7 linked regions of the Homo sapiens genome follow. The protein of the gene in region 1 purifies or fractionates together with the protein of each later gene. This does not show direct contact. Each region holds a gene or a part of one and is shown in the gene's direction. Other genes may lie near its edges. The genes, in order: FPR1, THADA, DNAAF5, URB1, CIP2A, BRAT1 and INTS2.

Region 1 (3,606 bases):
GTCCACGTTTGTGTGACACTAGGTCACTGAAGCTGTCGCCCACTGATTTTCTGATATCTTATGCTCTTATTTTTCCTTTATTAAATTGATGGTAAAATACAAAAAGTTAACCATTTTAGGCTGGGCACAGTGGCTCACGCCTATAATCTCAGCACTTTGGGACGCCGAGGCGGGCAGATCACCTGAGGTCAAGGAGTTTGAGACCAGGCTGGCCAACATGGTGAAACCCCATCTCTACAAAAATATAAAAATTAGCTGGGCATGGTGGCAAGTGCCTGTAATTCCAGCTACTCAGGAGGCTGAGGCAGGAGAATCACTTAAACGCGGGAGGCGGAGGTTGCAGTGAGCCAAGATCGCACCACTGCACTCCAGCCTGGGTGACAGAACGAGACTGCGTCTCAAACAACAATAAAAAAGTTACCCATTTAAATGTACAATTCAATGGCATTAAGTACATCTACAGTGTGTTGCAACCATAACCATTATCTAGTTCCAGAACTTTTTAATCACACCAAGCAAAAACTGCATATTCATTAAGCAACAATTCCCCACTTCCTAGTTTCCCCAGTCCCTGGCAATCACTAATCTGCATTCGGTCTCTGTGAGTTTGGCTACTCTGGATATTTCATACAAGTGGAATCATACAAAATGTGACTTGTGGTGTCTTCCTTCCTTCTCTCCTTCCTTCCTCCTTCTTTCCTTCCTTTCTTTTTTCTTTCATTTTAGAGACAGGGTCTTGCTTTGTTGCCCAGGCTGGAGTGCAGTGGCTCAATCATAGTACACTATTAACCTTGAATTCCTGGGCTCAAGTGAGCCTCCCATCTCACCCTTCTGAGTAGCTAGGACTACAGGTGTGTGCCACCACATCCAGCTAATTTAATTTAATTTTGTTGTTGTTGTTGTTAGAGATGAGGATCTTGCTATGTGGCTCAGGCTGATCATGAACTCCTGAGCTCAAGCAACCCTCCTACCTCGGCTTCCCAAAGCTCTGAGATGACAGGCGTGAACCACCACATCCAGCCCTCTTTTGTTTAGAGTAATGTTTTCAAGGTTCAGCCACGTTGTAGCATATATCAGTGCTTCATTGTTTTTTATGGCAGAATAATATTCCATTGGGTGGATAAACCACATTTTGTTTATCCATTCATCTGTTGATGGACATCTGGGTTGTTTCTACCTTTTGGCTATAGGGAGGAGTGTCTCTATGAACATTTTTGTTTGAATACATGTTTTCTCTATACATCTTTGGCCCCATATTCTCCTCTTGGAGGTCAAGGACCCTATCTTCCTTAGCCATTTAATCTCCCTGGTAGGGGCTTGCATGTTAGCAATTATGAGGATGTGTCATAAGATGCAATCTTGGCCACACGTGGTAGCTCACGTCTGTAATCCCAGCACTTTGGGAGGCTGAGGTGGGTGGATCACCTGGGGTCAGCAGTTCAAGACCAGCCTGGCCAACATGGCAAAACCCCACCTCTACTAAATATACGAAAATTAGCCAGGAGTGGGGTGGTGCATACCTGTAGTCTCAGCTACTCAGGACGCTGAGGCAGGGGAATTGCTTGAACCCGGGAGGTGGAGGTTGCAGTGAGAGATCACGCCACTGCACTCCAGCCTGGGTGACAGAGCAATATTCCATCTCAAAAAAAAAAAAAAAGATGTAATCTTGCCCAACAGGTACAATAAAAGATTGCCAATGTATAGATGTGGGCATGTGTAAGGGACAGTGGTGAGGATGTTCCGGCTGTTGTGGGAGCTCTAGGGGAAGGTGAGAAAGCTAGGAGTGGGAAAACTGGCAGGGGCAGAAATGAGGGGGTGGGGAAATGGTACGGAGGTTCATAACTGAGGAATGACCACGACTGCACTATTTCAGGAGCAGACAAGATGGAGACAAATTCCTCTCTCCCCACGAACATCTCTGGAGGGACACCTGCTGTATCTGCTGGCTATCTCTTCCTGGATATCATCACTTATCTGGTATTTGCAGTCACCTTTGTCCTCGGGGTCCTGGGCAACGGGCTTGTGATCTGGGTGGCTGGATTCCGGATGACACACACAGTCACCACCATCAGTTACCTGAACCTGGCCGTGGCTGACTTCTGTTTCACCTCCACTTTGCCATTCTTCATGGTCAGGAAGGCCATGGGAGGACATTGGCCTTTCGGCTGGTTCCTGTGCAAATTCGTCTTTACCATAGTGGACATCAACTTGTTCGGAAGTGTCTTCCTGATCGCCCTCATTGCTCTGGACCGCTGTGTTTGCGTCCTGCATCCAGTCTGGACCCAGAACCACCGCACCGTGAGCCTGGCCAAGAAGGTGATCATTGGGCCCTGGGTGATGGCTCTGCTCCTCACATTGCCAGTTATCATTCGTGTGACTACAGTACCTGGTAAAACGGGGACAGTAGCCTGCACTTTTAACTTTTCGCCCTGGACCAACGACCCTAAAGAGAGGATAAATGTGGCCGTTGCCATGTTGACGGTGAGAGGCATCATCCGGTTCATCATTGGCTTCAGCGCACCCATGTCCATCGTTGCTGTCAGTTATGGGCTTATTGCCACCAAGATCCACAAGCAAGGCTTGATTAAGTCCAGTCGTCCCTTACGGGTCCTCTCCTTTGTCGCAGCAGCCTTTTTTCTCTGCTGGTCCCCATATCAGGTGGTGGCCCTTATAGCCACAGTCAGAATCCGTGAGTTATTGCAAGGCATGTACAAAGAAATTGGTATTGCAGTGGATGTGACAAGTGCCCTGGCCTTCTTCAACAGCTGCCTCAACCCCATGCTCTATGTCTTCATGGGCCAGGACTTCCGGGAGAGGCTGATCCACGCCCTTCCCGCCAGTCTGGAGAGGGCCCTGACCGAGGACTCAACCCAAACCAGTGACACAGCTACCAATTCTACTTTACCTTCTGCAGAGGTGGAGTTACAGGCAAAGTGAGGAGGGAGCTGGGGGACACTTTCGAGCTCCCAGCTCCAGCTTCGTCTCACCTTGAGTTAGGCTGAGCCACAGGCATTTCCTGCTTATTTTAGGATTACCCACTCATCAGAAAAAAAAAAAAAAGCCTTTGTGTCCCCTGATTTGGGGAGAATAAACAGATATGAGTTTATTATTGACTTCTTTTTTGATTTTGGACCTCAGCCTTGGGTGGTCAGGGTGGGAAATGATAGGAAGAAGCTGTCATCTGCATCCTAGTTTGCCTGAAATGAACCCAAATAATACCCATTATTATTAGTCCTGAATTATGAGTAGTGAATGATACCCATCATTCTGGCATCATGATGAGTAGTGTCCACTTCCATTCTGAAAAGTGCCCTGCTGTGAAAAATAAATTATATAGTCATCCTAGGTAAATGAAGGAGGAGGGAGAAGTGTGAAAGAGTATGGCTTAAATCAGACAAGATATACAAGAAGATACTTTATATAGGGCAGGAGCGGTGGCTCATGCCTGTAATCCCAGCACTTTGGGAGGCCGAGGCAGGCGGATCACCAGGGGTCAGGAATTCGAGAACAGCCTGGCCAACATGGTGAAACCCTGTCTCTACTAAAAATACAAAAATTAGCTGGGCGTAGTGGCAGGCTCCCGTAATCCCAGCTACTCAGGAGACC
Region 2 (3,500 bases), on another chromosome or scaffold:
TCCAGATGGCATGGTACTATTAGTGTGTAGTTGTGTAGTCTCTGAGTTGGGTTGTTTAGCCTGTTATGAACCCGTTGATTTGTTAAGTATCGATAAAAGCAAACTCAAGAGAATAGCATTAAAAAAATATTTTTTTTCATTTTTGCAGAAATCAGGACACGGTAGTACCTCCTCTTAGTCTAATGAGTCACTGAGGTTAGTTTGAAGTATTTTATCTTTGGAAAAACTATCCCAGTTTTTTTGTGTGTATGTTCACTAAAAGGAAAGTTTGCTGTATTTTAAAATACAAAGACTGAGTCATAGTAGGTAAAATAACTTCAGTCAGTAATAAGCTTCAGCTTAAAACATTTTTCTTCTTCAAATCAGAAATTCTTAGACAGTGATTCTCATTCTGGAGCAGTTTTGCTCCCCAGGGGACACTTCACAGTGTTTGGAGACATATTTTGGTTGTCAGAACTTGGGAGGGAGGAGGGTGCCACTGGCATCTAGTGGGTAGAGATGGGGATGCATGAAACATAATGCATAGGATGATACTGTTCAACAAAGAATGAACCCAGCCAAAAATCATAGTGCTGAGGTTGAGAAACCTTACATTAATGCCTTAAAGTCTTCTTTCTTGCAGTGACTACTATTAATTCTATTTAAAATGGGTGTAAAGAAGAAGAAAGAAATGCAAGTTGCTGCGCTGACCATTTGCCATCAGGACCTTGAAACTTTGAAATGTAGGTGACTTCTGGTTTCCCTTATTATATTTTTTTCTAGTTTGCAAGCAGAGTATTTTAATGACTGGGACCCCTAGCATATAATATTCAAATTCTTTATATTTTTCCTTATGTTTTGGATGTAAAACAATTTTCTTAAAATTCTGTCTTCAGACTATGTTCCACCTATTGCTATGGTTTATAATTAAAAAATTTTGTAGAATGCACAACAAAGGCAAAGTTAACTCACTGTTAAATCATTGAAAATTTTTTTTTGTATATGTTATATAGCTTTTGCTGATGTGGAAGGGAAAAATCTAGCTTCTTTGCTGTTACATTGTGTGCAACTCACGGATGGAGTGTCACAAATCCATTATATTAAACAGGTAAGTCTGAATTGATATTCATGGATGCATCTTTAAGAGTATCATGCTATTAAGGATTTAAAAAAAATCACTGACAGTTTTTGGTCCCTAATTATTGCATATCAGTTTATCATTAGCAAATAAGTATTTTTTTTTTTCTGTTTATTGTATAATATCCTTGTATTCAAAGCAGCAATAGAAGCCATATTCAGACTTCTATCATAATTGAACTGTAAACAGATAAGGTAGAAGATAATGTGCATACCTCTTTTGTGGAGATAAATTTTAAAATATATGAATCTTCAAAACTTTTTAGCAGACACATTTAAAAGTTAATTTAAAATATAAAGATTATACTTATTAGTATTTCAGTATTAGGATTTACCATTTGAGCACACATAGTTTTTTTTTTTGGAAAGCAAGTAAATGTATTACTGGTTTTTTAATAGTGCTACAGCTGTTCTTTACTGTAAGCCATTAACAGGTCTGTGATTCTCTGTGGAGGTGGGTCTGGAGGGTAAAGAGGGAGGTGGGGACATGAGTTTAAAAAGTTAATAAATAGTGAAATAGGTGTTTAAATCAGTATCCTTGACAGTGGAGTATGGAAAACATTTCACGTAATTGACACTTTGTTTTATTTATTTTTTTGAGATAGGGTCTCACTCTCTTACCCAGGCTGGAGTGCACTGGTGTGATCTTGGCTCAACCACAGCCTCAACCTCCTGGGCTCAAGCAATCCTCCTGCCTCAGCCCCCTGAGTAGCTGGGACTACAGGCATGTGCCACCATGCCTGGCTAATTTTTGTATTTTTTTGTAGAGACAGGGTTTCACCATGTTGCCCGAGCTTGTCTCGAACTCTCCTGGGCTCAAGCGATCTGCCCACCTCAGCCTCCCAAAGTGTTGGGATTACAGGGGTGAGCCACTGTACCCAGCAATTGAGACTTCAAAGAGTATCTGTAACCATGTTACTTTGCTATATTTGATATTATAAAAATTACTTCAATGTTTTGTATTATAGATTGTGCCTCTGCTGGAGAAAGCAGATAAAAATGGCATGTGTGATCCCACTATTCAAAGTTGTTTGGATATCTTAGCAGGCATTTATCTTTCTTTGAGTCTAAAGAATCCCTTGAAGAAAGTATTGGCAAGGTAAGAAAAAAAGGAAGGGAAGTTGGGTGTTATAAATGTTGAATTTGACCAAAAGTAACTGAAGTTCCTTCCTTGGTTTGATAAAACTGAACTGATACAGATCACAAAAAGTTCATTCATATGGTTTGTTCTCTGTTTCATTGATTAGTTACAACTATTTTTTTTTTTTTTTTTTTTTTGAGACGGAGTCTAGCTCTGTCGCCCAGGCTGGAGTGCAGTGGTGCGATCTTGGCTCACTGTCAGCTCTGCCTCCCGGGTTCACGCCATTCTCCTGCCTCAGCCACCACACCCGGCTAATTTTTTGTGTTTTTAGTAGAGATGTGGTTTCACCATGATAGCCAGGATGGTCTTGATCTCCTGACCTTGTGATCCGCCTTCTCAGCCTCCCAAAGTGATGGGATTACAGGTGTGAGCCACTGCGCCCAGCCTAGTTACAACTTTTTAAAAGTATAAAAAGCCTTCTTAGGTCACATGCTTAATAAACAGGCTGTGGGCTGTAGTTTGCTTACTCCTGCCTCAATCCATTTACATTTATTGGTTATGTTTAAATGTCATCTTGCTGTTTTTTCCTCTTTTTGTCCTATCTGTTCTTGGTTTAAATATATATTTACACAGATAACACAGGAATATAGGCTTGGTATAAAAATTTCAAATGATATAGAACTATACAAAATAAAAACTAAGGCTTCCATTTCATTGTTTAGGGCTTATCTTACTTTTCTTAGTAAAGATTGTCACTTACCGTTTTGGTATTTATCTTTCTAGACCTTCTCTTTGAGGTCAGCATATGTGTGTTACATTCTACTTTTTTTATATATATCTGTAAACGAGATTATACTCTACAGAATGCTCTGTAGCTTGTTTTTTCACTAAAGAATGTCTTAGAGATATTTCCATGTCATAAAATCCTAATTGTAGTAAAAGACATATAACATAAAAACTCAGTCTTAACCTTTTTTTTTTATGAATTCTTTTTTTTTAAATTTTAATTTTCATTTCGATAGGTTTTTGGGCAACAGGTGGTACTTGGTTACATGAATAAGTGGTGGTTTCTGAGATTTTGGTGCACACATCACCTGAGCAGTGTATACTGTACCCAACAATTTGTAGTCTTTTATTTCTCACCCCCTTCCCACCCTTTCCCCTGAGTCTCCAAAGGCCATTGTATCATTCTTATGCCTTTGCATCCTCATAGATAAGCTTCCACTTATGAGTGAGAACATATGATGTTTGAGTCTTAACCATTTTTAAGTGTACATAGTTCGCTATTGTTAAGTGTATTCAT
Region 3 (3,500 bases), on another chromosome or scaffold:
TCAACAAGCACGCCCTTTTATGGTTGACATGCCGGCACCCTACCTCCAGCGCCTGGGGGCTCTCCCTGCAAGGGCTCTCCCATGGCTGCTGCCCCTCGTGAGCCGTAGACTAGGAGCCCCGGGCGGGCTCTGTCGGCCCTGACACTGGGGCCGGAGCGGGAGCCCTGTATTAGTCCATTCTCATGTCGCTAATAAAGATCTACCACAGACTGGGTAATTTATAAAGAAAAAGAGGCTTAATGGACTCAAAGTTCCACATGGCTGTGCAGGCCTCACCATCATGGTGGAAGGCAAAGGAGGAGCAAAGTCACGTCTTACGTGGCGGCAGGCGAGAGAGTGTGCAGGGGAACTGCCCTTTATACTAACATCAGATCTCGTGAGACTTAATATCAAGAGAACAGCACGGGAAAGACCCACCCCCATGATTCAGTTCCCTCCCACAGGGTCCCTCCCAGGATACGTGGGGATTATGGGAGCTACAGTTCAAGATGGGATTCGGGTGGGGACACGACCAAATTGTACCAAGCTCTGACGGTGCTGCCGGTCTCTTCCAGGACCTCTACCTGGAGCGCCTGCTGCTGTGTGTGCAGGCTCTGGTGTCTGTGTGTCATGAGGACTGTGGCGTGGCCAGCCTGCAGCTCTTGGACGTGCTGCTGACAATAGTGGCCCTCGCAGGTGCTACCGGCCTGAGGGACAAGGTAAGGCTGACAGTGGTGGCTGCTGCTTGACCTAGCGGAGCTCACAGCTGGAAGGCATCTCTAAGTGAGGTGAACTGTCTCCTATGCATCCCCTCTGTGCTTGACCAGCAAAGACCAGGGATTGAGAACCTTGCGGGTGAGTCCCCGGGCAACGGCCTTCGGGGCAGCTCTCCAGCTGCCAGTGTATTCTGGCATCAGGGAGTGGAGACAGCTGTTTAATGTTAGGGTCTTCAGCAAAGAAGCAAACAAGAAATAAGACGTAACCTTTAAACCTGCGCACTTGAGTAGGGTTTAATAGTGCACATGTCGCTGGGCGTGGCATCTCACGCCTGTAATCCCAGCACTTTGGGAGGCCGAGGTGGGCGGATCACCTGAGGTCAGGAGTTTGAGACCAGCCTGACCAACATGGTGAAACCCCGTCTCTACTAAAAATACAAAAAATTAGCCAGGCGTGTTGGCATGTGCCTGTAGTCCCAGCTACTCAGGAGGCTGAGGCAGGAAAATTGCTTGAACCAGGGAAGCAGAGGTTGCAGTGAGCCAAGATCGTGCCACTGCACTCCAGCCTGGGCTGAGCAACAGAGCGAGACTCCGTCCAAAAAAAAAAAAAAGTGCATGTGCATGTGTGACTGAGTCGAGAGAAGATACCGTGATTTCCCGCTCTCATTGCAGCACAGCGTTCAGAAGTACTTCTCGCCCATGGGCTCCCTGTTTATGCCCAAAAATCATCTTTTTTCTTCAGTGGAGTCTCGCTCTGTCACCCAGGCTGGAGTGCAGTGGCGCGATCTCGGCTCACTGCAACTTCTGCCTCCCAGGTTCAAGTGATTCTCCTGCCTCAGCCTCCTGAGTAGCCGGGATTACAGGCGCCCACCACCATACCCGGCTAATTTTTATATTTTTAGTAGAGACAAGGTTTTGCCACGTTGGCCAGGTTGGTCTCAAGCTCCTGACTGCAGGTGATCCACCTGCCTCAGCCTCCCAAAGGGCTGGGATCATAGGCATGAGCCACCGCACCTGGCCATTATGCCCAAAAATCTTTTAACCCCAACCTTCTAATGGGCTTCTAGGGCCCCTGGAGGCCCCAGTATCTGTCTGCCTCTCTGGAAGCTGAGACTTAGTTCCTCCTCCCATTCTGTCTCTGTGGACAGCCCCTCTCGGCAGATTCTCTCTCTGGGAGATTTACGGCCTGAATGTACTATGGGGAACCTGGTGTGGAGGAGGCTGCTGCCCTCCCCTTCCTTCTTGGGGCCTCTAAAAACAAGCTTCCCAAGGGGCGTGTGTCTCAGCAGATGCTGTCACTGTTAGGGCCTGAGGTACCAGCAAAAGCAAAGTCTTTGCCTGCTGGTCATGGGGGACGAAGCCAGGTAGCCCCAGATTCAGACTCCAGGCTTGGGGCAATGGCCACCGGGGAGCCTCAGCCCTTCCTCTGTTCCTAAGCCCCCAAGGAGAGCAGCCAGCTAAAAGTAAAAGGTGGCCAAGGTTATCATCTCTGTCTGCCCAGTTACTTTTACCTGGAGGTCTGGTCTGCTGGGCTTAACTCTTTAAGCCACTTGCCCGCCCCTCTCTGCTCCTCACCACCTCAGAGGAGCCCTGCCTGCCCAGGCGGACACCACGTCCGTGTAAGCCCCAGGACCACCTGTGCTGTGTGCATCCCAGTGTGCACAGTGCCTGCTTCATGATTCGCTGCAGAGACGGCGTTGGTGTGAACGGGATCAGGGTCTCGCCCTGCACCCGCGGCTCTCGCTCTCCTGCACCCTGGGCGGGGCTCCCTGTGGCAGCCTCCCTCCCGATTATCCTGGCAGGCCCGGCCTGTGTGGTTCTTACGCGTGAGGGGGATAGTGAGTCCCAGCAGGCAGGCAGGCTTGAGCCCTGAGTGTTGGAATTGTCTCAGTCTCTGACTTGTAACCTCCAGGCACAGGAGACGATGGACTCACTGGCCATGGTGGAGGGTGTCAGCAGCTGCCAGGACCTCTACCGCAAGCACATTGGTCCCCTCCTGGAGCGGGTGACCGCGTCGCACCTTGACTGGACCGCACACTCGCCGGAGCTCCTGCAGTTCAGTGTCATCGTCGCACAGTCAGGTGAGCCGTCCCGACAGCTGGCGTGCCGTGCCTGGCCCCACTCAGGCTACACACCTGCTCCCCCAGGTGCTCAGCAGGTACCAGCGCCGACCAGCTGAGCTGTGGTTCACTGAAGCGTGTTGTTAAAAGTACCCAATAGTCACTCTTGCCTGGGGAGAAGCAGCATTTTAAGGAGCATCGCATTGAAGACTGTGGGACGCAGCTCTTCCACTTGGCCCGGGCACACGCTTTCATGTGAAACCTTCAAAGTGTGCTTTTCCGTGGCCTGTTTTGTAGCCTGGCTTCTTAAATACGTCTGGATTTTGTTGCAGAATCTAGATGTCTAGCCGCATGGGTGCTGTGTGTGTGACATGGGGGCCTTAGCCCCAGCCCCTCTGAGACCAGCATTTCTGTGGTTCTCTTTGAGCCTGCGGATCAGCCACTTTTCCTGGGATGGACAGTGTGGCCCAGTGGGGCTTCAGCGCGGGGCAAGATCCACTGCAGAACCCTAAGGAGACGTCCGCTCAGCAGCCATAGTGCCTTGGGACACACGGCCCGCGCTGCTCCACGGGCCGTGAACTCGCCGCGGTAGCTCTTCCTCGTTTGCCTCCCCGGCCCTCCCGCTCCCGCCTGCAGCTCCGAGTGCCCCCGCCTCCTGTTGGATGTGTGCACCAGGGTGGTCGTGCTCTGCATCTGAGGATGCTAAGATCGTTCTTACACAATCTCTGTGCCTGGTAGGGACTCA
Region 4 (3,500 bases), on another chromosome or scaffold:
GATTGCTGGAAGATCAGGGAAGTGAAGTTGATGGCTGTTAGGAGACTTTGTTTTCACCAGGCATGTGAGGGAAGGGTTCTGATGATGCTCCCTTCGTGTAGTGGAGGAACAAGAGCTGCCAGGTTAGATTGGTAAGGACTGAGGATATTCCAGAGTGGATCAGTGTCAGCCTGTGGGAAGATCCCCCATCAAGAAGGGTTTGGCTCTAAGCCAGTTCCTTTGAAAGTGTTTGCCCACGACTCCACTGGTGATAGAGAAAAGGCCATACTGTAAGAGAGTACACTAATGGTTAAACTCTTGATCTCCTTCTCCCCACATTGCTTCTGGTTTCCCCACTGCATAAGTGGTAATTCTGATTAGCTGGATGTTCCTGCCAGAACCCTCCGTCTGCATCAGTCTGTCCCCTGGCCTTGGTGGTTGATTCTCCTCCTGAGAATTTCTGGAATCTGTCTGCTCCCCCTCTTTCCTTCATCATCATTCTAGTCCAGGCATCATCAGTCCCTGCTGGGACCGTGGCTGGAGTTGCCCAGAGTTGGTCTCTCTTGCTGTTGCTTCCCTGCAGCCCGTGCTGTGTGCAGCAGTCAAATGATCCTTCAGAGCTCCAAATCTGATTATGTCACTCCTCTCATGACACCCTTCAGTGGTATCCCACTGCCCTTAGGATAAAATCCAAAGTCATTTCCATTGCTTCATCTAGCCCTGCCTGCTTCTTTGACTTCATCTCAGGCTGCCCTCCCCCACTCACTCAGTCACCCCTCCCCACTCACCTGGCTCCAGTGTACCCTCCAGCCTTGGGGCCTGGAATGTGGTCTCACCCTCTGCCCCCTCAATACTTACGTTTACTATTATTAATAATAGGTTCAGCATTACTTCTTCAAAGGAAACCTTCCCAACCCTCTAATCTAGATCATGTTCCCTAGGTACAGTCCTCATTATACTCTTGATGTTTGCTTCATAGCACTTACTACAGGTGCTATACGTGTCTATGTAAGTGATTGCGGTAGGTGCTTAATAAATACTCACATTGGTCTCTATCATTAGATTGTAAGGACCATGTGGGTAGAGGCCATTTCTAATTTGCTCATCAGCACGTCTCGGGCACCCCCTGTAGGTGCACCTGGTAGGTGCCCAGTAAATGGTGTATGGAAAGATGAACCTGTAAAGACGGCAAACATAACAGGCCAGCAGTTTCCACCCTGTAATACTCTGGAATGCTCAGAGTTACATGCTAGAGTTTGACGAATAATTCCTTAAAAAAGAGTGAGTAGTTGCACTGCTCTTTCTGTATTAACAGCCCTTGCTATCACTTGCATTCTGTGTTTTCTTGAGGGACAGAGTAGGTATGCATAACTCCAGGGTGCCTGTGCCGACTGAGCTCCTGTAACTCACAGTCACCTTGGTCAGAACACCCATGGCCTGCTCATAATCACCACCAGACCACGCTGCAGACGGCAGCAATGGAGTCTGGCCCCGAAGCTCAGAGCAGCGCCTGGCATAGCAGATGCACTTGCTCAGTGACTGTTAAAGGAATGGCGGTGGTTGCTGCGGAAAATGTTGCAGCATAAAAGGGGATCTGAAAACACCTGTGAGGCTGGCAGAGGCCGAATGTGACTGGATTTTCACTGCTGCTGCTGAGGACACCCGGGGGGCTGCTTATGTTTTGAGGGTTTACCTTGACCTAAGTGTGATGCTGGATGCTTTATGTGTAAATTAGCCTTTTTACGCTTCATACAAACCCTGTCAGGTAGGTTCTGTTCTTGTTCCGTTATACAGGTGAGGTACCCAGAGCTCAGAGTTCAGTGCCTTACTGAGTACCATGCAGCTAGTAAGTGACTGAGCGGGGATTTGTGCCCAGGAGTCTGGCTCCAATTTTGTTCTTTTCTGGTATGTTTTTGGTGTAATGGCGTGCTCATGCGTCCCCGGCAGATGTGGCTTAGCAGCGTCAGGACTTGAATCTGAGACACGCAGAATTGCTGTCCAAGAGGAAGCATGTGTTGGTCCTCTCTGCTCAGCTAGTGGAGCTCACCTGCAGTACCAAGCCCTGTTCTGGGCCTCATGCTTCAAGGGAACATAGAGAGTGACCTGAACACAGAAGGATCTCGAAACTCTCATTTCTGGAGAGAGGTTAAAGGAAGTGTTTGGTGTTCAGAGGTGCTGACTAGGGTGATGGCAGCTGGTGTGGGAAAGAAGGATTAGATCCATTGCCTGTGGCCCCAAGGCAGAGAAGGAAGGACCCCTTAGGGATGCCCAGACACTCCCTAAAGCAGACCACGCTATTCTGATGTGTCTATGAAGACTGTAGTGTATTTCTTAAAGTTTGTGGCATTTTACATTTTACTGTATTGGTCATTACTAAGTGGGTTTTAATAGAAATATTTAGTCCCTTCCTCTGCTTTTTTTTTTTTTTTTTTTGAATAAGGTGAAGTCTTCACTCCCCAGAAGAGATGAAGGCCTCAGTAAGATGTGTTACCTTTAGCTTACGCTCTCATGCGGCTTCCAACCCACTGCCATGCCCTGCCTTCCTAGTTTTGAGAAGTATGGCCCAAAGAGTGGAACCAGAGAGAGGCAGGGTTTTTTTTGTTTTGTTTTGTTTTTGAGACGGAGTCTCACTCTGTTGCCAGGCTAGAGTGCAGTGGCACGATCTCGACTCACTGCAACTTCCACCTCCCGGATTCAAGTGATTCTCCGAGAGGCAGGTTCAAGTGATTCTCTGAAAGGCAGTTTTATAGAACAGGTTCTGGCAGGAGAATTCTGTGGGCAGCGGCACACAGGTGGCTCCCAGTTGGTAGGGTGGGGTTGTGGTGGGGGTTCAGATTCAGGTGTCAGTGGTAGGGGAGGGGAGGTTGTATTAATTGCAGGAAGGGTAGTAGAATCCTCAGGCTGTTGAGAGGGGAGATTTTTGAGTGGGGAACTTCTGGGGTGGCCTTATGGGGAAACACTCTAGTGGGGTGCCCTCCTTTGGGTTTTGAAAGAGCACTGATGTCAACTGATGCTTGGCATACTGACTGTGGGCCAGGTGCAGCACGGACACTCTGTGTGCCAGTGCACTCAGAGCAACAGGCATCAGCTCCATTGCATGAGCAGGAATCATCCAGTTCGTGGAGGGAGAATATGGGCTCTGGAGCCCGACTGCCTGGATTGGAGTCCTGGCTCTACCTCTCCTAAGCTGTGTACCTTTGGACAAGGGCCTCAGTTTTCTCATCTGTGAAATACTAGTACCTAGGGAAAAAAATACTCATACCTAGGGTGGAGGGTTGCAGTGAGAATTAGCTGATGTCATGTAAGTAAAGCTCTTGGTAATGTTTCGTTACCATGCTCTATATGGTTTTTCTTGTTATACCCATTCTACAGTTGAGGGAACAAAAGCTCTATGGGGATCCAGACGAGTCATTGCCAGACTCAGTAGTCAAACCTGGGAGTCACATTGGCACTCAGTTTGTCTCATTCCTTATTGCCTTCATGGTTTCTAAGTGTGTTCATAATGTCCTTGTGGATTAATC
Region 5 (3,500 bases), on another chromosome or scaffold:
CAGTAATATGAAATTCCCAGCAGATACAAATGGAATCTATACAACTTGATATTATTTATAATGAATGAATTATAATAAAGTGTTCCTGGCTTTTGAAAGATGCATCAAAATAAGTGACTAGTAAAATGCCTCTTAAGTCTCTTCAGAATAATGGTATTCTTTTTTTCCCCCATATTTCTTTCTTTTTTGCTTATTTTAACATGGTTTCATTTGTCTTAACTGGTATGTTGAATTTGTCACAAATTACAAGAAAGAACATTAGTGATATTAAAATAATTTTTCCCTCTCCCCATAGCACATTCTTATATTTTCTGTCTGTTGGACATGTCTTGTATTTTATTAGAGAGTTTAATATTTTATTCATGTTACTGGAAAAGTTCTTATAAAAATAGCACTAAATAACTGGATACAGGTTCTTCACAAAGTCGTAAAAACAGAGAAAGGCTTAGGGTTTTGTCTAGCATTGTAAAATAAAATCCAAAGGGCTGGGGGGAACCAACTTTTTATTCTAGCGACTTTTCTGCTTTTTTAGTGTTTCATATCACATAATAAATACATGCAGGTTATGGTATAGGTTACATTCTTTGATTATACTAGCTTAATTTTAAGTGTTTGATTAAGCATCTGTGATGTCGTTAAGATTTTGTTCTTAATTCTCACCTGAAATGAGAATGCTGATGGTGTGCACACTTAGCAGTTTAGTGTTAATGGCTACCTCTGAGGACCATACCTTTTTAATTGAATACTGTATGTAGCGCGACCTTCATGTTGCTGCAGTTGTATCCATTTCCATTAATTTGATCATAGTGAGATTGTTTTTATCAGATAATGTATTAAGTTAAAAAAATATAACAGTATCCAACTTATTAGAAGTAAAGTCCTAAGTATATGTGACTAATACAGCTTTGCATGACCCAACAGATACCAGCTTATTAGATACTTAGTAAACTTTTAAATTGTAGGTATGTGTTGAGCATATGATATAGATGATAGTGGTAAAGTCTATCTTCTTTTTTTTTTTGAGGCACGGACACTTGCTAGTATGTTGAGAGAAGTTGAGAGAAAAAATGAAGAGCTTAGTGTGTTGCTGAAGGCGCAGCAAGTTGAATCAGAAAGAGCGCAGAGTGATATTGAGCATCTCTTTCAACATAATAGGAAGTTAGAGTCTGTGGCTGAAGAACATGAAATACTGACAAAATCCTACATGGAACTTCTTCAGAGGTAAATAAAGTAAAATCTTCTGTGTAAGGTTAGAACCTAGAATGAACATGCAGCATTTCTTTTCTGAGACCCGAAAATCCTTTTGTAAGCATTTCATATATTCTGATAACACATGAGGTAAGTAATTAGCAAGAAACTTAAGTCATTGTGAAATGAAGTGTTGCTTCCTCAAACTCAGTATCAATGTTGGAAACAAAATACAGGTCTTTCCAGTTGACTTCTTTTATGTATTCATAACAGTCAGCAGTCATTTGGGAGATAAGCTCCACAAGGACAAGTTTGTCTGTTTTGATCACTGACAGATCCCTAGGGCCTGTAGGAGTGCTTGCTGCATAGTTAGGCACTTCATTAATAATTTTTAAATAAACTTAGTTGTCAAATTAGTATTAGGTTGAATGGTCATTTCTGCAGATCAAAAGTAGTTGAATATTGGCAATTTCATATCATTCTGCCTAATAGAATGGAAATTTAGGTGTAAGTGTTTAACTCATCTCTTAATATCCTTGATTATAGTTTACTTCCATGTGTGATTACATCTGTAGAATAAGTTCACATAGGTGAATTGCTAAGTTAAAGGGTATGTATATTTAATATTTTGATAGATATTTCTAAATTTTCCTCCAAAATGTGATACAGATTGAGTGTCCTTTTTGAACACAATGGTAGCACTCAAAAAGTTTAATATTTTGGAGCACTTTTGATTTTAGACTGATTTTGGATTTTCAAATTAGTGTTGCTCAACCTGTACCAATTTGTGTGCCTACTAGCAAAGTTTGATTGGTTTTTCCTCCCTTATAAACTCTTTTATCTTTTTAGGCCAGTTGTAAAACTTCTGAATTACAGGGAAGACCAGGAACAATTATGTATTTTCTACCAACCCATAAAAGTAAATACACTCTGGGGGAACTTGTTTATTGCTTTATATTTTAAGATTGTTCTATGTTGTTAATACAGAGATATAGAAATTTTTAGCTTGGCATGGTACATATGCTTATTTCCCATCAATAATAATGAAGGGTGAGAAATGAATAGTATCTAGAAAATGATGACAAAGTGATTTTTTAACAGGATATTTACCCCAGCAACTTTTTACAAAGTCTGATTGTTTGAGGCACCACTGATAAAGTGTAGTATTAGTGATAAGCCAAGTTGAGAACGTCAGCAGTGAAGAAAATACGTTATAGAACTGAAATGGGTTCCATTTGCTCAATACAGTAAAACCAGGTATCTGCACCAAGGTTTGCAGTGATAGAAAAAAAGGCTTTTACTGCAGGGTGCCAAGTAAGGAGGAGCAGGCAGCCAAATGCTCAAATACTGACCTCCCCAATAGCTTGCAAGCAAGGATTTTTAAAGGCGAGTAAATTTCAGGAAAGTGGAAGTTACAGACAAAAATCATAAATAAATAGTTAAAGGTTATACATTGGTTTAAGTTTAAAGGACAGGATATTGTGAAGCAGGGGCTTACAGGTCATGGGTAGACCCAAAGATTTTTCGATTTGCAGTTGGTTAAGGAAGAGCAGCTTTGTTTAAACATTTGGGGTCAGTAGAAAAATGTTAACTAGCTAGGGAGAGTGACTTTGTTCAAGACCCTGAGAAAGAAACTTAGAACAAAGAACAGTGGTTAAAATTCAGCCTTCATTTTCTCCTTACCTGAGCTCTACTTGTCAATGGATCTGGTCAGTGGGCTTCCTCAATGAGGGTCCGGGTCTCTGAAATACAACTCAGGGACATGTGTTAAGTTGTTTTCTTTAAGTTCTATAAAGAATCAAGTATCACTGGTACTCTTAAGTTTGTTAACTTTGATTTAGGCTACTATTACCTTCCTGTTTAACAAGTTACTTATTTACTTCTAGGGCTATCTAGGTCCCTGGAATTTCCCTTGAGTGAACTCAGGATTTTCCTTTATTTTCCAGCTTGAGGTCCTCAGACCTCCTAAAAAGGGGATACCTGCTTTGTCTCACATAGAGAACCTAAGAGATAGGCAGCGTCCAAGAAAAATACGTGGTTTCTAAGACCTGCTTATGTTCCAGCTAGTGATTTAGGGGCTAGAAGGTGAAATTCCTTGAATGGACAAGTGGATAACATGTAAATGAAGCTGGCTGGGGAAAAGGTCATTTGTAATGGTCAGGACTGTCTAAAGGCACTCAAACTCAGATTGTTAAAATTCCTGTATGGATTAGATACAAAAACTGCTGGCCAAGTTTGGCTACTGGTTTTTTTTGTTTGTTTTGGTTTGGTTTTTGGGTTGCTTTTTAAAAATCTTTGTGCTTAGTGAAATA
Region 6 (3,500 bases), on another chromosome or scaffold:
CGATCTCCTGGGCTCAGGCAGTCACCTGCCTCTGCTTCCCAAAGTGCCTTTTACCCTCTTTGAGCTAAATATCTAGGTCTTCCTTGTTTTCTAATATATATATTTAAGGCCAGGCACGGTGGTTCATGCCTATAATCCCAGCACTTTGGGAGGCTGAGGCAGGCAGATCACTTGAGGTCAGGAGTTGGAGACCAGCCTGGCTAACATGGTGAAACCCCGTCTCTACTAAAAATACAAGAATTAGCCTGACATGGTGGTCCATGCCTGTAATCCCAGCTACTCGGGAGGCTGAAGCAGGAGAATCACTTGAACCTGGGAGGCAGAGGTTGCAGTGAGCCGAGATAACGCCATTGCACTCCAGCCAGGGCAATGGAGTGAGACTCTTGTCTCAAAAAAAAAAAAAAAAAAAAAAAAAAAATATATATATATATATATATATATATTTAAGACTATGCATTTCTCTAAAAGTATGACTTTAGCTACATCTTACACGTTTTACATTGCAGTACTTTGGTTTTAATTTAGTTCTGAGTATTTTATGCTTTTCATTATAATTTTTTTTTCACCCACAAGTTACTTAAAAGAGTATCCTTTAGTTTCAAAATATGGATTTTTCCAGTCTTTTTATTATTGATTTTTAATTTACTTTGTGGAGGTTAGAAAACATAACATATGTTTTGAATCTTTATAGCTGTTGAGACTTTTATTGAGACATAGGACCCAGGCGAGTTTTCTCAATGTTCTAGAGATTTCACTATATGATTTTGATGTTTTGGTATTTGAAGGTCTTCAACTGTGGCCTAGTTTGTAGTAGTCAGTTTTTCTTTTTCTTTTTTTTTTTTTTTGAGCCAGGGTTTTTGCGCGTCACCCAGGATGGAGTGCAATGGCGTGAACACGGCTCACTGCAGCCTTGACCTCCTGGGCAGTCCGCCTGCCTCATTCTCTTGAGTTCCTGGGATCAAGGTGTGTACCAGGCCCAGCTATTTTTTTTTTTCCCATAGAGATGAGGTCTCACCATCTTGTCCAGGCCAGCTTGGAACTCCTGGGCTCAAGCAGTCTTCCCGCCTGGGCTTCCCAAAGTGCTGGGATTACAGGAGCGAGCCACCATGCCTGGCCTGTATTTAAATTTTAAGAAGTATTTTTCAGTAGCTTTATTGAGATATAATTTGCATACCATGCCATTCTCCCATTTAAGGTGTACCAGATCCTTTTACAGTTTGTAAGCATGAGATATATATATATCTATATATAGATATATATATAGATATAGATTTTTTTTTTTTTGAGACCAAGTCTTGCTCTGTTGCCCAGGCTGGGGTGCAATGGCACAATCTTGGCTCACTGCAACCTCCGCCTCCTGGGTTTCAAACGATTCTCCTGCCTCAGCCTCCTGAGTACCTGCGATTAAAGGTGCATGCCACCATGCCCGGCCAATTTTTGTATTTTTAGTAGAGGTGGGATTTCATCATGTTGGCCAGGCTGGTCTCGAACTCCTGACCTCAGGTGATCCCTCCACCTTGGCCTCCCAAAGTGCTGGGGTTACAGTGGAGAGCCACTGCACCCAACCTAAGCATGATAATTGAGTGTTCAGGCGCATGTGTGAGATGTGGCACCATGGAACCCTGGTATGATGTCGGTACGTGACCCGTCTGACATGAGAAATGGACAAAATAAATAAATAAATGGTACCAATTCAACAGTTCTTAGTAAATTTACAGGGCTCTGAAATCATCAGCACAATCTAATTTTGTTCCCCCTAAAGAAACCGAGTCTGGGTTCACAGTGAGTCCCTGTTTCCTCCTCCCTCCCAGCCTCTGTCATTTCTCCTGCATTGTACTTGATGGAAAGAGTGTAGTTTCCACACTCGTTCATTAGTTCAGACCTGCTATGTTCTTGCTAATTTGTTTGCTTGTTTCTGAGAGGTGTGTAAAAAGCTTACACCAAGATCATGGATTCATGATTTTTCTTTGAGATGCATCCTTTTTTTTTTTTTCGCTTTACATATTATTTTTTTCTTTTTCTTTTCTTTCTTTTTTTTTTTTTGTTTTTTTTTTTTTGAGATGGAGTCTTGCTCTATTGCCCAGGCTGGAGTGCAGTGGCATGATCTCGGTTCACTGCAGCCTCGACTTCTTGGGCTCAGATGATTCTCTCACCTCAGCCTCCCTAATAGCTGGGACCACAGGAGCCCGCCACCACGCCCGGCTAAGTTTTTGTATTTTTTGTAGTGACGGGGTTTCACTATGTAGCCCAGGCTGGTCTCAAACTCCTGGGCTCAAGCAGTCTGCCCGCCTTGGCCTCTCAAATCGCTGCAATTACAGGTGTGAGGCACTGTGCCTGGCATTTTTTTTTTCTTTTTTTTTTGGAGACAGGGTCTCACTCTGTCACTCAGGCTAGAGTGCAGTGGTGTGATCACGGCTCACTGTAGCCTCAACTTCCTGGGCTCAAGTGATCCTCCCACCCCAGCCTCCTGGATGGCTGGGACTACAGGGACACACCACCACACCCAGCTAATTTTTTGTATTTTTTTGCGGAGACGGGGTTTCACCACGTTGCCCAGGCTGCTTTACACGTTTTGAAGTGAGGTTAGGTATACATAGATGTAGGAATGTTGTGTCTTTCTGGAATTTATCTCCGTGATCAGTTAACTTACTTCTGCATGAATACTGCTTTTTGCTTTACAGCCCATTTTGTTTGCTATTTCTGTTGCTACATCAGCTTCTTTAAAGTTAGAATTTGCCTACTGTGTCTTTTCTCTCCTGCTCCCAGCCTTTCCTGTCGTTGCATTTTATTGCTTTTAGAAACACCACATTGCTTGTTTTTAGTGTTTAATTTAATCTCAGCAACTCTTTCTTTTAACAGATAAGTTTGATCTCTTTAATTTGTTGAGGCGACTGTTAGATTTGAATTCTTTTGTATTTTTTAATTTCCTGTGCCTTACCTTTGTGCCTTTATCCTCCTTTTCTGCCCTCCATCAGATTGATAAAGCTTTTTTTTTTCTTTTAAATCTTTCCTCTTCTGGTTTTGAAGTTATACATTCTATTTATGTTCTTCTTTTTAGACAAGTTCTTGTGCTGTTGTCCAGGACAGTGGTGTAATCACGGCTCACTGCAGCCTTGACCTCCTGGGCTCAGGTGATCTTCCCATCTCAGCTTCCAGTGTAGCTGGGACTATAGATGCGCGCCACCATGCCCAGCGAATTTTTATAGAGAGGGGATCTTCCTGTGTTGCCCAAGCTGGTCTTAAAACTCCTGGGCTCAGGCAATCTGCCCACCTCGGCCTCTCAAGATGCTGGGACCACAGGCTTATTTGTGTTCTTCAGTGGCTACCCTTATATTTTTAACATGAGAACCGGATTTTTTAAAAAGTCTGAAGTTAATTAGACTTTCCATTCTCTATCCAGGCAACCGAAGGACCTCAGAGCACTTGAACTTCAGGCCATCACAACCTTCTATTATTGTCGTTAGTATTTTAATTCTGTTTTGTTTCAAAACCCTTCAACA
Region 7 (3,500 bases), on another chromosome or scaffold:
CTCAAGTGATATGCCTGTCTCAACCGACCAAAGTGCTGGGATTACAGGCGTGAGCCACTGTGCCTGGCCTACATTTATATTTCAAAGAACAACCTAAATTAATGCTTTCTCCCCAGTTGTATTTCAGTTTGTAGGCATTTATTGTGGGTTTTGTGTAGGAAATGTGTGGTATTAAGCTAAGTTACTAGTCATTTATATAAGTATAGTAATTAGGGATAGTAATTATAATTATATAATTATACAGTAATTTCAGATTTTTAAAACAATGTAAGATTTTCAAAATGCATAATACTCCATTTAAATTCTCAATAGTGGCACATGGCTATTTTATTAAAACTTAGAAACTGCCATTTTCTAATTTTTTTTTTTAATTTTAAAGACAGGGTCTCACTCTGTCGCCCAGGCTGTCATAGCTCACTGTAACCTCAAACTCCTGGGCTCAAGCAGTCCTCCTGCCACAGCCTCCTAAGTAGCTGGAACTACAGGTGCGAGCCACCACTCCTGGCTTTTTTTTTTTTTTTTTTTTTTTGAGATGGAGTCTCACTTTGTTGCCCAAGCTGGAGTGCAGTGGTGCTATCTCAGCTCACTGCAACCTCCGCCTCCTGGGTTCAAGTGATTCCCCTGCTTCCGCCTCCTGAGTAGCTGGTATTACAGGCTCCTGCCACCATGCCTGGCTAATTTTTTTTTTTTTTTAATTTTTAGTAGAGACAGGGTTTCACCATGTTGGCCAGGCTGGTCTCAAACTCCTGACCTCACGTGATCCACCCACCTCGGCCTCCCAAAGTGCTGGGATTACAGGCATGAACCACCGTGCCTGGCCTCATACCTGGCTTTAAAAAGTGTTTTTTTGTAGAGACAGGGTCTCGCTATTTTGCCCAGGCTGGTCTGGTCTTGAACTCCTGGTCTCAAGCAATTCTCCTACTTCGGCCTCCCGAAGTGTTGGGATTACAGGCATGAGCCACTGCAGTGGGCCTGGTTTTGTTTTACAAATTGGGGAAGCTGCCATGACTAGTATTTGTTGATTTGTCATAAGGACACCTCACACCTAACTTAGAATTTTGACATGTTTTGATTTGTCTTAGTTGGCTATATCTAACAAGTTAAAAGGCCCTCTAAAGAGAAGGTATTAAGACCCAGGAGGTAAAGTAGACTGAAACTTTTTCAGATATTTACAAAGAACAGTGAATAATATATGCATGATATATCACTTTTTAATTGTTGCTTGTTTTTTGTGATTTAGTGAGATTATTTTCCAGCCAGATTGCATCATCTGCTTTATATTTTTAGCAAGTAAAATAGCTAAGAATTAAGAGTTCACATGCACCCCCAACATTTTACATGTCCTCCATCCAATGATAGTTAAGTGATAAGTCTCCTGTAAGTGCTTTTCAGAGACATTTTCTTAGTCTATCTGAGGGTTTGCTGTGAAGGACCTATCTCTCTCTCTCCAAATTCCTATCTAACGTGAGCTCTCCCATGACGACACACATGGTGCTCTAAATACAGATATGGTAGGGACTTAAAATGTTTTTCCCACTACTTAAAAACTAATAGATTAAACCGAAAGGCAAGCTTCTAGTGGAGGGTGCACCTAAGATGATACAGATATAATGGTAGTTCATATTTTAAAATCAAAGGCAGTTATGATACTAGATAATATATTTGGAACTGCCAAAAGTTAATAGTGAGTTTTACTGATTCATAATTCATGTAAAACTGTATGTACTTTTATAATTTTGCTTGGTTTTTCTTTTTGCCACAATTAATTCAGTGTCTATAACATTCTTTCTTAGGATTGGATTTATAGACAGCTGTGTGAAACCTCTACTCCACTTCATCCTCAATTACTTCCTTTGATTGATGTGTACATAAATTCTATACTTACTCCTGCGTCGAAATCTAATCCAGAAGCCACAAATCAGCCAGTCACAGAACAGGAGATACTCAATATTTTCCAAGGAGTCATTGGGGTAAAATAGTGGTTCTTTTATATCTATTAACTTATTTTTCTTTTAGTTCTTCTTACTTAACCCATATTTTTATTTTCCTATCAGAGGACTTCTAGGTAGTTCTGAATTTAAAATTAGATTAAATTTCCTTAGATCACCTCTAAAAATTAAAAGAATGGTATTAGTTCCAAGTAGTTTGCTAAACAGGCACTTTTTTTTTTGAGATGGAGTTTTACTCTTGTTGCCTAGGCTGGAGTGCAGTGGCGCGATCTCAGCTCACTGCAACCTCCTCCTCCCTGCAACCTCTGTCTGCCGGGTTCAAGTGATTCTCCTGCCTCAGTCTCTCGAGTAGCTAGGATTGCAGGCGCCTGCCACAACGCCTGGCTAATGTTTTGTATTTTTAGTAGAGACAGGGTTTCACCATGTTGGCCAGGCTGATCTCGAACTCCTGACCTCAGGTGATCTACCTGCCTCAGCCTCCCAAAGTGCTGGGATTACAGGTGTGAGTCACTGTGCCTGGCCTTTTTTTTTTTTTTTTTTTTTTTTTTTTGAGACTGGAGTCTTGCTGTGACACCCAGGCTGGAGTGCAATGGGCAGTCTCGGCTCACTACAACCTCCGCTTCCTGGGTTCAAGCGATTCTCCTGCTTCAGCCTCCTGAGTAGGCTGGTCTCAAACTCCTGACCTCAAGTGATCCTCCTGCCTTGGCCTCCCAAAGTGCTGGGATTACAGGTGTGAGCCACTGCGCCTGGCCAGTAATTTTTTTTTTTTTAAGCTTCACTTTAAAGTCTAATGGGTTCCCTGGAGATTGTGTATTTGATCAAGTACTGTGTGGGATATCAAGATATTCAGCATAGGTTTGTTTAGCATCCTGGGAATCTAAGATACACCTACATTCATTTAGGGGGATTTTTTTTTTTTTTTTTGAGACAGAGTCTCACTCTGTTGCCCCGACCGGAGTGCAGTGACACGATCTCAGCTTACTGCAAACTCTGCCTCCTGGGTTCAAGTGATTCTCATGCCTCAGCCTCTCGAGTAGCAGGGATTACAGGCACCTGCCACCACGCCTGGCTAATTTTTATATTTTTAGTAGAGACAGGGTTTTACTATGTTGGCCAGCTGGTCTCCAACTCGTGACCTCAGGTGATCTGCCTGCCTCAGCCTCCCAAAGTGCTGGGATTACAGGTATGAGCCACTGCTCCTGGCTCATTCAGGGAAAATTTGATGAAAGTATTTTTTCCCCAGTTTGTTAGAAGGGAAAAACAGTTGCATTTTTCACAAATATATTTAAGTATACAATGTCTTATTTAGGAGTTACTTTTTTCATGGTAATTTCATATAATACTTGGGACTCCTGTCTTTCAGAAGCAGCCTGATGGGTTTGCTATTGAGTAGTAGCTGAAGTCTTTTCTTTGTCTTATCTTAAAGACCACTTAAGCATGTTGCCTTTCATCTCTCATGCCATCTCAGATTTCATGTTGTTTTTTTGAGTTTAATACACACACAGCAACATTTCTCCTGTTTTACCTGAGTTAGGAGCAGCAATGCTGAAT

The links.
Region 2: the proteins of FPR1 (region 1) and THADA purify together in Homo sapiens (co-immunoprecipitation; 2 studies listed by BioGRID and IntAct, with this or other methods). This does not show direct contact.
Region 3: the proteins of FPR1 (region 1) and DNAAF5 purify together in Homo sapiens (co-immunoprecipitation; 2 studies listed by BioGRID and IntAct, with this or other methods). This does not show direct contact.
Region 4: the proteins of FPR1 (region 1) and URB1 purify together in Homo sapiens (co-immunoprecipitation; 2 studies listed by BioGRID and IntAct, with this or other methods). This does not show direct contact.
Region 5: the proteins of FPR1 (region 1) and CIP2A purify together in Homo sapiens (co-immunoprecipitation; 2 studies listed by BioGRID and IntAct, with this or other methods). This does not show direct contact.
Region 6: the proteins of FPR1 (region 1) and BRAT1 purify together in Homo sapiens (co-immunoprecipitation; 2 studies listed by BioGRID and IntAct, with this or other methods). This does not show direct contact.
Region 7: the proteins of FPR1 (region 1) and INTS2 purify together in Homo sapiens (co-immunoprecipitation; 2 studies listed by BioGRID and IntAct, with this or other methods). This does not show direct contact.

Annotation. Positions count from the first base shown.
Region 1 is NC_000019.10:51,745,273-51,748,878, reverse strand, and holds the end of FPR1 (fMet-Leu-Phe receptor), read left to right. Parts: intron 1-1,873; 5' UTR 1,874-1,884; coding exon 1,885-2,937; 3' UTR 2,938-3,106; downstream 3,107-3,606. UniProt on the Homo sapiens protein: High affinity receptor for N-formyl-methionyl peptides (fMLP), which are powerful neutrophil chemotactic factors. Binding of fMLP to the receptor stimulates intracellular calcium mobilization and superoxide anion release.
Region 2 is NC_000002.12:43,589,539-43,593,038, reverse strand, and holds part of THADA (tRNA (32-2'-O)-methyltransferase regulator THADA), read left to right. Parts: intron 1-148; exon of another isoform or gene 149-195; intron 196-622; 5' UTR 623-646; coding exon 647-722; intron 723-992; coding exon 993-1,087; intron 1,088-2,084; coding exon 2,085-2,215; intron 2,216-3,500. UniProt on the Homo sapiens protein: Together with methyltransferase FTSJ1, methylates the 2'-O-ribose of nucleotides at position 32 of the anticodon loop of substrate tRNAs.
Region 3 is NC_000007.14:761,199-764,698, forward strand, and holds part of DNAAF5 (dynein axonemal assembly factor 5), read left to right. Parts: intron 1-554; coding exon 555-698; intron 699-2,607; coding exon 2,608-2,776; intron 2,777-3,500. UniProt on the Homo sapiens protein: Cytoplasmic protein involved in the delivery of the dynein machinery to the motile cilium.
Region 4 is NC_000021.9:32,386,513-32,390,012, reverse strand, and holds part of URB1 (nucleolar pre-ribosomal-associated protein 1), read left to right. Parts: intron 1-3,500.
Region 5 is NC_000003.12:108,554,939-108,558,438, reverse strand, and holds part of CIP2A (protein CIP2A), read left to right. Parts: intron 1-1,024; coding exon 1,025-1,221; intron 1,222-3,500.
Region 6 is NC_000007.14:2,549,025-2,552,524, reverse strand, and holds part of BRAT1 (integrator complex assembly factor BRAT1), read left to right. Parts: intron 1-1,559; exon of another isoform or gene 1,560-1,655; intron 1,656-3,400; exon of another isoform or gene 3,401-3,459; intron 3,460-3,500. UniProt on the Homo sapiens protein: Component of a multiprotein complex required for the assembly of the RNA endonuclease module of the integrator complex.
Region 7 is NC_000017.11:61,889,983-61,893,482, reverse strand, and holds part of INTS2 (integrator complex subunit 2), read left to right. Parts: intron 1-1,793; coding exon 1,794-1,970; intron 1,971-3,500. UniProt on the Homo sapiens protein: Component of the integrator complex, a multiprotein complex that terminates RNA polymerase II (Pol II) transcription in the promoter-proximal region of genes.